3 linked regions of the Homo sapiens genome follow. The protein of the gene in region 2 interacts with the protein of the main gene of each other region in a pairwise test. Each region holds a gene or a part of one and is shown on either strand. Other genes may lie near its edges.

The links.
Region 1: the proteins of NDUFAF2 (region 2) and TMEM97 interact in binary tests that used the Homo sapiens proteins (3 or more experiments, as listed by UniProt).
Region 3: the proteins of NDUFAF2 (region 2) and NDUFA7 interact in binary tests that used the Homo sapiens proteins (3 or more experiments, as listed by UniProt).

What each region holds. Positions count from the first base shown.
Region 1 is NC_000017.11:28,322,183-28,325,828, reverse strand, and holds part of TMEM97 (sigma intracellular receptor 2), read right to left. Parts: intron 327-3,646; coding exon 182-326; intron 1-181. UniProt on the Homo sapiens protein: Sigma-2 receptor which contributes to ameliorate dysfunctional cellular processes and slow degenerative progression by regulating cell functions including cholesterol biosynthesis/trafficking, membrane trafficking, autophagy, lipid membrane-bound protein trafficking, and receptor stabilization at the cell surface.
Region 2 is NC_000005.10:61,067,064-61,070,716, forward strand, and holds part of NDUFAF2 (NADH dehydrogenase [ubiquinone] 1 alpha subcomplex assembly factor 2), read left to right. Parts: intron 1-3,653. UniProt on the Homo sapiens protein: Acts as a molecular chaperone for mitochondrial complex I assembly. Complex I functions in the transfer of electrons from NADH to the respiratory chain. The immediate electron acceptor for the enzyme is believed to be ubiquinone.
Region 3 is NC_000019.10:8,311,295-8,314,947, reverse strand, and holds part of NDUFA7 (NADH dehydrogenase [ubiquinone] 1 alpha subcomplex subunit 7), read left to right. Parts: intron 1-3,352; coding exon 3,353-3,443; 3' UTR 3,444-3,653. UniProt on the Homo sapiens protein: Accessory subunit of the mitochondrial membrane respiratory chain NADH dehydrogenase (Complex I), that is believed not to be involved in catalysis. Complex I functions in the transfer of electrons from NADH to the respiratory chain.

The sequences.
Region 1 (3,646 bases), on a different chromosome or scaffold from region 2:
ACATGAGCCTGAGCCACACTAATGTCCCTTTACAAGATCTACCCTGGCTATTTACCCCAGATCCTGTAGCATTCTCCCACAAACTATGGGGACCATCCCCTTCCCTTTGGAGATACTTTCCCAAAAGATTTCTGGGACCTGATTTCTGAGTAAAAATGGGATTTTCCCACCATTTACCAACCTTTGAGGAAGGCATACGTTGCAATGGGAAAGAAAGGCAGCTGAAACACAAGCTCGCAAAACAGAAAGGACTTAAACCAGGCTGGGGGCTCCTGTAGCAGTGGGTCTTTGAACTCCTTAGCATACCACTTCAGCAGGTTTCTAAACTGAAAAAGAAAACGATCATGATGAATTACAGCCACTTGCCCTCAACAGGCTCGGCGCTAGCTCATTTGAAAATACACTGGAGGAGCCTGTCATTAATTAGCCACCCCCCACTACCCCGGCAGCAGATGGCATGTCCAGCTGGCTTTTGTGACACAGCCTAGGTGGTCATTTAATAAAAACTTACTATCCCTAACTCAAATGTTCCCTTCTCTGAAATTTTCTCAACTCTTCCAGCCCCTTCTTTGTGTTACCCAGAATCTGTTCATAATTCCAAGATAACACATCCAGGTGTGTTGGCCACTGTCAGGAGCAACAATAAGTATCTGGCACTTGGTAGGCACTCAGGGTGTTCGCTGAATGAACAAATGTGACATTTCTGTCAACAATATCATTCTTTGTTTAAAAAAACAAATACACATGAAAACCATCCTGACACTTTCCCTTTTGTAATGGCAACTACACACCAAACTCCTCCAAAGGCCAGATTCCCTCAAATGCAGAAATGAATTGAATTTCCCTCTTCTTTTTGCGGGGTGGGGGTGGGAGTGAAAGGGGAAGTAAATCTAACCTCTGTGGCGATGTAATTTTGGACACTTTAATTCCAATATGACAAACAAGTTCCTTAACTCCCCTAATTCTAATTTTTGGTTTATTTTAGGAGACAGGATTTTAGTGGAAGAACAAACTCTGCCCCAAACTACAAACTACCTAGTAGCTTCTTGGTTATGCAGGGTTTTAGCGTCTCAGTTCTAGCTTGGGCCCCACGCTTGTAATTACCTTGTCAAATAAAAAGGATGCGGATCCATGCTGACCTGGCTACAGGCAGAGAAAAGAAGCAGAGTTTAAGGCTTCCCATCTTGGGCTTTTATAGGAGCCCAAAGCCTAGTGCTCTTGGCTCTATGTGGACTACTAAACGTTTGTCACATTTAACCTCCTAGATGTGGCGCTGCCCTGACACACAGGCCTTCAAAGACAAATAAGTCTTGATATTATGATTAATAAAGGCAACTCCAGGGTAAGAATTTATCTTACTTACAATGGAAAATCCAAGAATATTTTTCCTGTTAATTTTTAATCAAAAGATAAAGCCTCGCTATTGTGAAATAGAAGCCCCACTGCTGCAAGAGCACTTTAAGCAAACATCCAGAAACAAATATCCTGTTAGCATATTATTAATTTCAGAAAGGCTTTGGCTAGATAACCAATTTATTGACCAAAGGATATCCAAATTTGTACTTAATTTGAAATTGAAATTCATAGCAATGCCCTTCGCTTCCTTCTAAGCACTTTTCTGGATGGGAATGTGGTTTGAATAGGATTGAATTGATAAGAAACACAAAGGCTAAGTCACTGTCCCTCTCCAGGGTTCTACTTCCTCATCTGTAAAATGAGCAACTTGGACTAGATGTTTTCTTAAGATCCCTTTTTTGCTTTTTAGATTTTTAAAAATACTGGATGACACTACCTGCTTTAAAAGATTGACTATAAAATTATTATTATTTTTTTTGAGACAGTCTCTGTTGCCCAGGCTGGTGGAGTGTGGTGATTTGATCTCGGCCCACTGCAGCCTCAACATCCCGGGCTCAGATGATTCTGTCACCTCAGCTTCCCCAGTAGCTGGGACTACAGGTATGCGCCACCAAGCCCAGCTAATTTTCTGTAGAGACGGGGTTTTGCCACATTGCCCAGGCTGGTTTCGAACTCCTGGGCACAAGCGATCCTCGCTTCAGCCTCCCAAAGTGCTGGGATTACAGGTGTGAGCCACTGCACCCGGCCTGACTGCAAAATTTAAGAGGCATTCTGGGCCAGGCCCGGTGGCTCATGCCTATAATCCCAGCACTTTGGGAGGTCAAGGCGGGTGGATCACCTGAGGTCAGGAGTTTGAGACCAGCCTGGCCAACATGGTGAAACCTCGTCTCTACTAAAAATACAAAAATTAGCTGGGTGTGGTGGCTCACGCCTGTAATCCTAGCAACTCTGGAGGCTGAGGTTGCAGTGAGCCGAGATCGAGCCACTGCACTCCGGCCTGGGTGACAGAGCGAGACTCCATCTCAAAAAAAAATTAAAAAAAAAAAAAGGCATTCTGGCCATTTGAACTTCACTTTCTATTCAATTTGTTTACAACCTCTCTGATCCAACTATTTCATAAACTGAGGCAGACTTGTACAGCACTTTAATTTCTAAGGCCTACAAGATGAGATCAGCAAAATTTAAAAAACAATCACCCAGATGTCGTAATAATGAATTATCATAATCGTAACCAACCATCTGCCCACAGTCATATACCTGCCACCTGATGCCAGAATGAGGCTGGGACTAATTGTGAGTAGGAGAGTAGAAAGCCCAGGCACCTGGCAGATGGGTGAGGCGTGTAGGACCTGGGGTAGAGTGCCTGGCTTTAGGCAAGGCCTTTAATCTCCCTACACTTGTGTCCCCATCAATAAAATAGAGCCAGTAATAGTGCCTACTTCACTATTGGTAAGAGAGTGACTTAATACATGTAGTCTTTAAAATAATGGCTAGCACATAATGATTAATTGAATGTAATTAATACATATTTGGAGATATTCAAGTTTAATCCCATTAAAATCGCAGCTCACGACTGGTCATTAAAAATTATTAGTTATGGCCTCCCTACCAAAGGTAATGAAACTGTTTCCACTTATACCTGACTCTATTTGACTCAACCCACCCTTGTTATACATAAAAGATTCACCTGGCCTGCACGCACGATCTCTAAACCAGTGGTTGCTACTCACCAATCTTGTACTTCTATAATTTAGAATGGGAACACAGACTGATTTCAGAGCCAGATGCTCACTTGTTTTTCCTTATTTTTACCAGAAGCAATGTTACCCAGCTGCAAATGATACTACAAAATGCTTCCCATCCTCTCCTTACCATGTTCTTATCCAAACTAAATTCTTACTGTTTCATAATAAAATAAGAGTTTTTCCAGGCCAGGCGTGGTGGTTCACACCTGTAATCCCAGCACTTTGGGAGGCTGAGGCATGCAGATCGCTTGAGGTCAGGAGTTTGAGACCAGCCTGGCCAACATGGTGAAACACCATCTATAACAAAATATAAAAATTAGCCAGGCGTTGTGGCAAGCACCTGTAATCCCAGCTATTTGGGATGCTGAGGCAGGAGAATTGCTTGAACCCGAGAGGCAGAGGTTGCAGTGAGCCGAGATTGCACCACTGCACTACAGCCTGGGCGACAAGAGACTGTCTCAAAAACAAAATCAAAAAAAAAAAAGAAAGAAAAACAAAAAGTAAATAAAAAAATGAGTTTTTCCAAGCAGTGATTTGGTGCAATC
Region 2 (3,653 bases):
TGCTAAATGAGTAGATTTTAGTTGCTCTTGCGACACACAAAAAGGGATAACTGTGAGATGATGTATATTTTAATTTTTTTTATGACTAGATGTTTCTTTTTTTTAATTATTATGCTTTAAGTTTTAGGGTACATGTGCACAACGTGCAGGTTTGTTACATATGTATACATGTGCCATGATGGTGTGCTGCACCCATTAACTCGTCATTTAGCATTAGGTATATCTCCTAATGCTATCCCTCCCCCCTCCCCCTACCCCACAACAGTCCCCAGTGTGTGGTGTTCCCCTTCCTGTGTCCATATGTTTTCATTGTTCAATTCCCACCTATGAGTGAGAACATGTGGTGTTTGGTTTTTTGTCCTTGCGATAGTTTGCTGAGAATGATGGTTTCCAGCTTCATCCATGTCCCTACAAAGGACATGAACTCATCATTTTTTATGGCTGCATAGTATTCCGTGGTGTATATGTGCCACATTTTCTTAATCCAGTCTATCATTGATGGATATTTGGGTTGGTTCCAAGTCTTTGCTATTGTGAGTAGTGCCACAATAAACATACGTGTGCATGTGTCTTTATAGCAGCATTATTTGTAGTCCTTTGGGTATATACCCAGTAATGGGATGGCTGGGTCAAATGGTATTTCTAGTTCTAGATCCCTGAGGAATTGCCACACTGACTTCCACAGTGGTTGAACTAGTTTACAGTCCCACCAACAGTGTAAAAGTGTTCCTATTTCTCCACATCCTCTCCAGCACCTGTTGTTTCCTGACTTTTTAATGATTGCCATTCTAACTGGTGTGAGATGGTATCTCACTGTGGTTTTGATTTGCATTTCTCTGATGGCCAGTGATGATAAGCATGTTTTCATATTTTAATTTGCTTCACTCTAGTAACCTTTTTACTGTCTATTCATATCCCACAACATCATGTTATATCCCTTAAATATATACAATGAAATTTATTTTAAATACATAAAAGTGAGATTTTTAAGTGTTTATTAATTCATTTTAAAATATCACTAATAAATCCATTACATGTTAACATAAAGAATGTATGGATCACTATACTTTACCTCTTTCTTCCTCCCGGATCTTGAAGTTCTGCCTTAATTTGTAAAACTTCCTTTGTATAGCATATCTGATACATATCTTTAATTGGCATACATTTTCATTTTTAGTATTTTTTAACTTGCTTTACTGCCTATGCTTAACAAGGCAATCTTTTTTACTTTTATCTTCACATTTTAAACACAATTGAACAAAAGAAATGTTATTAACACACTTTTACAAGAAATTTCTTTTTCCTCAGAATGTCAGAGTAAGTTCAGAAACTGAATATTGATTTTCCTTTTTAAGTTATGCAACAATGACATGAAAACCTTTATATTTTCCATGTGGTAGGAAAAAGGATATAGGTACAATTTTAATCTCATAAATACATGCGCACATGTATATGTGTTTGTGTATTTATAATCTATTAGTTACAATAGTCTGAAAGGGAACAATAACATGTTAATATGATATTTTGAGTCACGCGCTTACAGGTCATTTTTATTTTTTTCTACTTTTTGGTATTTTCCAGATTTTCTTCAGTGAAGTTTTAATGAATCTATTATTAGGATTAAGTTAATTGATTTAAGATGTGTCTTCCACATTCTGAAACACCTTAATGAAAGGCAGTGGTTTTTCTTTTTTGGAAAGAAATAGTGATTTTTACTCTTTTACTTTTAGCTTAGCCCTTGTATTTTACCAACCGAAATGTCAGTTTGTAGATGTAACATTTGTAGTCATCTGAAAGTCTGGCAACATATCTTAGTGGTTAAGTGTCTAGGATCTGGAGTCAAAAGACCCATGTTCAAATCCTGATATCTGTTTGCTAGCAAGTAAATGTCTTAAGTTCTCTTAAGCCTCAATCTCTTTATAAATGAAATGTACAAATTGTTTATTTAAATGAAGTAATAATAGTACCTCATAGCATTGTATAGCTTAAATGAAATTACTCATGCAGAGCTAAAACTTAGTTCAATATCTGGCACATGGTAAACATGCCATAAATGTTAGTGCTTTTTTTTTTTTTTTTTCCTGACTCTGGAAATCTAGGACCTCTCCCTTCTTCCTTCAAACCTAACAAAACATTGTTGTGAACTACAGGATTTTTTGAAATCAAGGGTAAATGTAATCCAAGCAAGACTTTGATATTCAACACCCATTACCTGTCCATAGGAGTTTCCTGCTGGTTGTATTGGTTTCTATGCCCTGTAACACCATATGTGTGGCTGGGCCTGTCTCTACAACCCAGTGTGGTCTGCAGTGTGGTTTCCCAACTGTGGTCTATAAGATGACTTTAGATGACACAAAGACAACCCTTTAAATTTTTTAAATCTATTTTTATGGGTGAGCAAAAAACACAACTAGCACATTAAGTCAGTGATTACATGAATATTTTTTAGAGTAAGGTAAAAATGAGTATTGAGGAAAAATGCAAATCACTGTAAAGAAAAATATTAGGTTATAGTACTCTAAAGTATGGCAAAAATTGCAAAGATGGTACTTGAATGGCTGAAGTTTAGGTTTCTGCTCTAGAGGCTCCTTCCCATATCTGTGTCCAGGGTGCTCATACACTGTCCCAGAAGCTCAGTAGTACATGTGAAACCTGTCTTTTACCTAAACCCTTGTCATCTACGATATGCCTTGGGATCTCACCTTTTATTATGTTTTCTTCCTTCCTTTCTTTCTTTTTTTAAAATTAAATGGGCTCCATATATTTCTAAACAAAGAAATAGGAAATCTACCATCCTCCTAAGGCAATTAGCTCAACAGCAGCTAGCTTTTTCTTTTTTTAAAGTTTGGAAAAATATACTGTTATATCTACAGTCTTTAAATACATAGATTATTGACCATTACTACCTTCCTGAATTCAAACCCTGTGTTTCAATTAAATATAATATTGTTTAGTATTAAATAAAACAACTGTGTACTGTTTTATTTAATAATACTCATTGAGTCCACCAATGTCAATTATTTTTGTTGTATTAGGACTTATTGAACCTACACATATATTGGATTAAATGTTTTTGTCACCAAGTTAATTTTTAAATGTAAATTAGAACCTAAAATTTTGATGCTTGAGCAGGTACTTAAATTTGCTGTATTCACTACGATGGAAATTTTTTTGCTGTGATAAATAGAGTTGTCTTTACAAATATTGCATGAAAGCATATTAGTATAAGTAAGTGTACAGTTTGTGCATAATTCCTTACTCAGTGGGAGGCATAAATTCCATTCCCAATTCATAAAAATTGAACAAGTAGTATTTATTCCAAAAAAAGGGAGTAGTTTTACAGTGATTTATTGAGGAGATAAACATATCTGATTACAAAGAATTTATTTAATAAGCTAATAGCTTTATTTTATATTACTAAAGATGTATACTTTTTTAAAAAATCTTTATTTCAACTATTTCTAAATAAAGGTTTATTCAGTGATTGTCCTGAAATTAAACTAGCTCATTAATTACTCTTCCTGTCTTTGCATACACACACACACACACACACACACACACACACGCACTCACATACACACAAATAGGCATAACTTTTGATTTTTTAAATCCTTGGGAGACCTTACATGAAGTTGATCGACCTAAGAGTAGGA
Region 3 (3,653 bases), on a different chromosome or scaffold from region 2:
TGTCTACTTTCTACACAGACACATTAACAATCTGATTTCTCTTTCTTATCCCCACACCAGGCTGGAGTGCAGTGGTGTGATCTCGGCTCACTGCAAGCTCTGCCTCCCAGGGGTTCACGCCATTCTCCTGCCTCAGCCTGCCTAGTGGCTAGGACTACAAGTGCCCACCACTACACCTGGCTAAGTTTTTGTATTTTTAGTAGAGACGGGGTTTCACCGTGTTAGCCAGGATGGTCTTGATCTCCTGATCTCATGATCTGCCCGCGTTGGCCTCCCAAAGTGCTGGGATTACAGGCGTGAGCCACCATGCCCGGCCTCCATGCTGGGTTAATTTTTAAATGTTTCGTAGAGATGGGGTCTTGCTTTGTTGCCCAGGCCGTTCTCAAACTCCTGGGCTCAAGCGATCCTCCTGCCTTGGCCTCCCGAGTAGCTGGGACTACAAGTGAGAGTCACCATGCTCAGCAAGAGCTCATTTAGTCCAACCCAGGGGAGGGTAGAAGTTAGCGCCTCAGCCAGGACTCTGCATCCTACAAAACAGATGAAGTCCGGGGTCCCTCCAAGGGTCCTGTGAGAAACTGAGACATTACTGTTGATATAATTATGAATTCTTATTTTATTTATTTATTTTGAGACAGTCTCACTCTTATTGCACAGGCTGGAGTGCAGTGGCGCGATTTCGGCTCACTGCAACCTCCACCTCCTAGGATCAAGTGATTCTCCTGCCTCAGCCTCCCAAGTAGCTGGGATTACAGGCGCATGCCACCATGCCAGGCTAATTTTGTATTTTTAGTAGAGATGGGGTTTCACCATGTTGGTCAGGCCGGTCTTGAACTCCTGACCTCATGTGATCCTCTGGCCTCGGCCTCCCAAAGTGCTGGAATTACAGGTGTGAGCCACCATGCCCAGCCATGTATTCTTCTCAGAGACAGAAGTGTATAAACCTTGGGCTCCTCTCAAAAAGCAGTTTGGTCCCTGGTTTCAGGTGTCTTCTCTTAATTAAATGGGGACTCTAATAGCATCTACTTCAGAAAGCTGTTACGAGGGTTAGTCCTCATAATTAATATTTGTAAACTCTTGGAGCCTGGCACAGAGTCAGTGTCCTGCCTACCTCCTAATAACTCCACCAGTTAGATGGTGATGACCCCTCTTGCAGAAGAGGAAATCGAGGCTCACAGAAGCCAAGTGACTGGCCTGGGCCACACAGGCAGCAGTAAGCAGAAGCAGGATTTCAAACCAGTTTTCCTGGACTCCTGTTGGGGTCTGGGCTCTACAGCCAACTCACGGTGTGGGCAGTCCCTCAGCCTTCTTGAGCCTTGGTTTCTTCACATATAAAATAGGGATGCTAGACTTGCAGTGTGCTGAGATCTGGGAGGTGATGAGGTCAGGCAGGGCCTGCTCTGTACTTAAAACTCTGTGAGGTCTGGGCGCGGTGGCTCACGCCTGTAATCCCAGCACTTTGGGAGGCCGGGGAGGGCGGATCACCAGGTCAGGAGATCGAGACCATCGTGGCTAACATGTTGAAACCCTGTCTGTACTAAAAATACAAAAAATTAGCCAGGTGTGGTGGTGGGCGCCTGTAGTCCCAGCTATTCGGGAGGCTGAGGCAGGAGAGTGGTGTGAACCCGGGAGGCGGAGCTTGCAGCTCACTGAGATCGCGCCACTGCACTCCAGCCTGGGTGACAGAGTGAGACTCTGTCTCAAAAAAAAAAAAAAGAACTCTGTGAATAGGCCAGGCGCAGTGGTGTGTGCCTGTAATCCCAGTGACTCGGGAAGCTGAGGTGTGAGGATTGCTTGAGTTCTAGACTTGTTTGAGTAACACAGCGAGACCCCGTCTCTATTAGAAATTTTTTAGGCTGGGCATGGTAGCTCACGCCTGTAATCCCAGCACTTTGGGAGGCCGAGGTGAGAGGATCACTAGGGGTCAGGAGATCGACACCAGCCTGGCCAACAGGGCGAAACCCTGCCTCTACTGAAATACAAAAGTTAGGGGCGCTGTGGCTCTCGCCTGTAATCTCAGCACTTTGGGAGGCCGAGGCGGGTGGATCGCTTGAGCCCAGAAGTTCAAGACCAGCCTGAGCAGCATGGGGAAACCCCATCTCTACAAAAAATACAAAAATTAGCCGGGTGTGGTGGTGTGCACCCGTAGGCCCAGCTACTTGAAGGGCTGAGGCAGAAGGATCTCTTGAACCTGGGAGGTCGAGGAAGCTTCACTGAGCTGAGATTGCGCCACTGCACTCCAGCCTGGGTGACAAAGTGAGACCCTGTCTCATAAATAATAAACAAGAAAGAAAATACAAAAATTAGCCGGGAGTGATGGTGCACACCTGTAATCCCAGTTACTTGGGAGGCTGAGGCAAGAGAATCACTCAAGCCTGGGAGGCGGACGTTGCAGTGAACTGAGATTGTGCCACTGCACACCAGCCTGGGTGACAGAGCAAGAGTCTGTCTCAAAAAGAAGGAACTCAGTGGAGTGGTCCTTGTTGTCACCTTCTGATTCACTGGAGTCCAGCACCAGAGTGTGGCAAGATACCTTGTTCCCACACAGCCCCTTGCCATGCCCCCAGAGATGTGTGCATTTCCCAGGGAGGCCACTTCTGCCTTTTCCATTTCCTTGAGGCTCCTGGGAGGTCCTGTGCCTCCACCCCTGGGGCGCCTCCTCCATCACCCCACCCTCCTGCTTCCTTTCTTGCTTAGGCTGTGAAGTGTGTGAGCTCCACAGGCTCAGGTGGGTGGGGTGAGAGGGGAGGGTGCTCGTCCTGGACTTGCCGGCACAGGGTCTCCTGGGGGCTCCCTCTTGGCCAGCTCTGGGCCAGAGATGCGTTTTGCAGTTGCCATTTGCGCATGGATTCTCAGCCCCACCAGCCTGAGTCTTCCTGAGGGCGGTGCCCCATCTTCCTGGCTCTGCGCCCACACAGTAGCGCCTGCCATGCAGTTCTTGCCCAGTCTGAGGCAGGAATAGCTGGAGGCCATTGTCACCTGATCGCTTGGCCCTTTTGCCAGCATCCTGTTTTGAGGGGCAGCAGGAATGGGGGTGGGGGCCTTGTGTACGCTGGAGACCAAAAGTGGGAAGGGAGGAGCCCAGCTCTCCACAGTGGGTTCTGGGCCTGGGGGCCACAGCAGGGGGTTCATACAGGGCTCAGGGGAGAGAGGAGGCTTGCTAGCTCCCACCTGGCGTTGGCTGATCCTCTGAGGGGCTGCGTTGGAGGGGTTGGCATTCTGGAACACCCTGCTGTCTGTCCTGCAGGTCCAGAAAGTCCCTGTGGGTGTGTTTGTCCCGGGGCAGGTGTGGGCTCCCTCAGATCTTTCCACACTGTTCTTTGGAAACCCTCACTGAAGTCTTTCCCTCCTCCAGCTCTGCTGTAGCTGCCACTGAGAAGAAGGCGGTGACTCCAGCTCCTCCCATAAAGAGGTGGGAGCTGTCCTCGGACCAGCCTTACCTGTGACACTGCACCCTCACGGCCACCCGACTACTTTGCCTCCTTGGATTTCCTCCAGGGAGAATGTGACCTAATTTATGACAAATACGTAGAGCTCAGGTATCACTTCTAGTTTTACTTTAAAAAATAAAAAAATAGAGACAGAGTCTCACCATGTTTCCCAGGCTGATCTTGAACTCCTGGCCTCAAGCGATCCTCCTGCCTTGACCTCCCAAA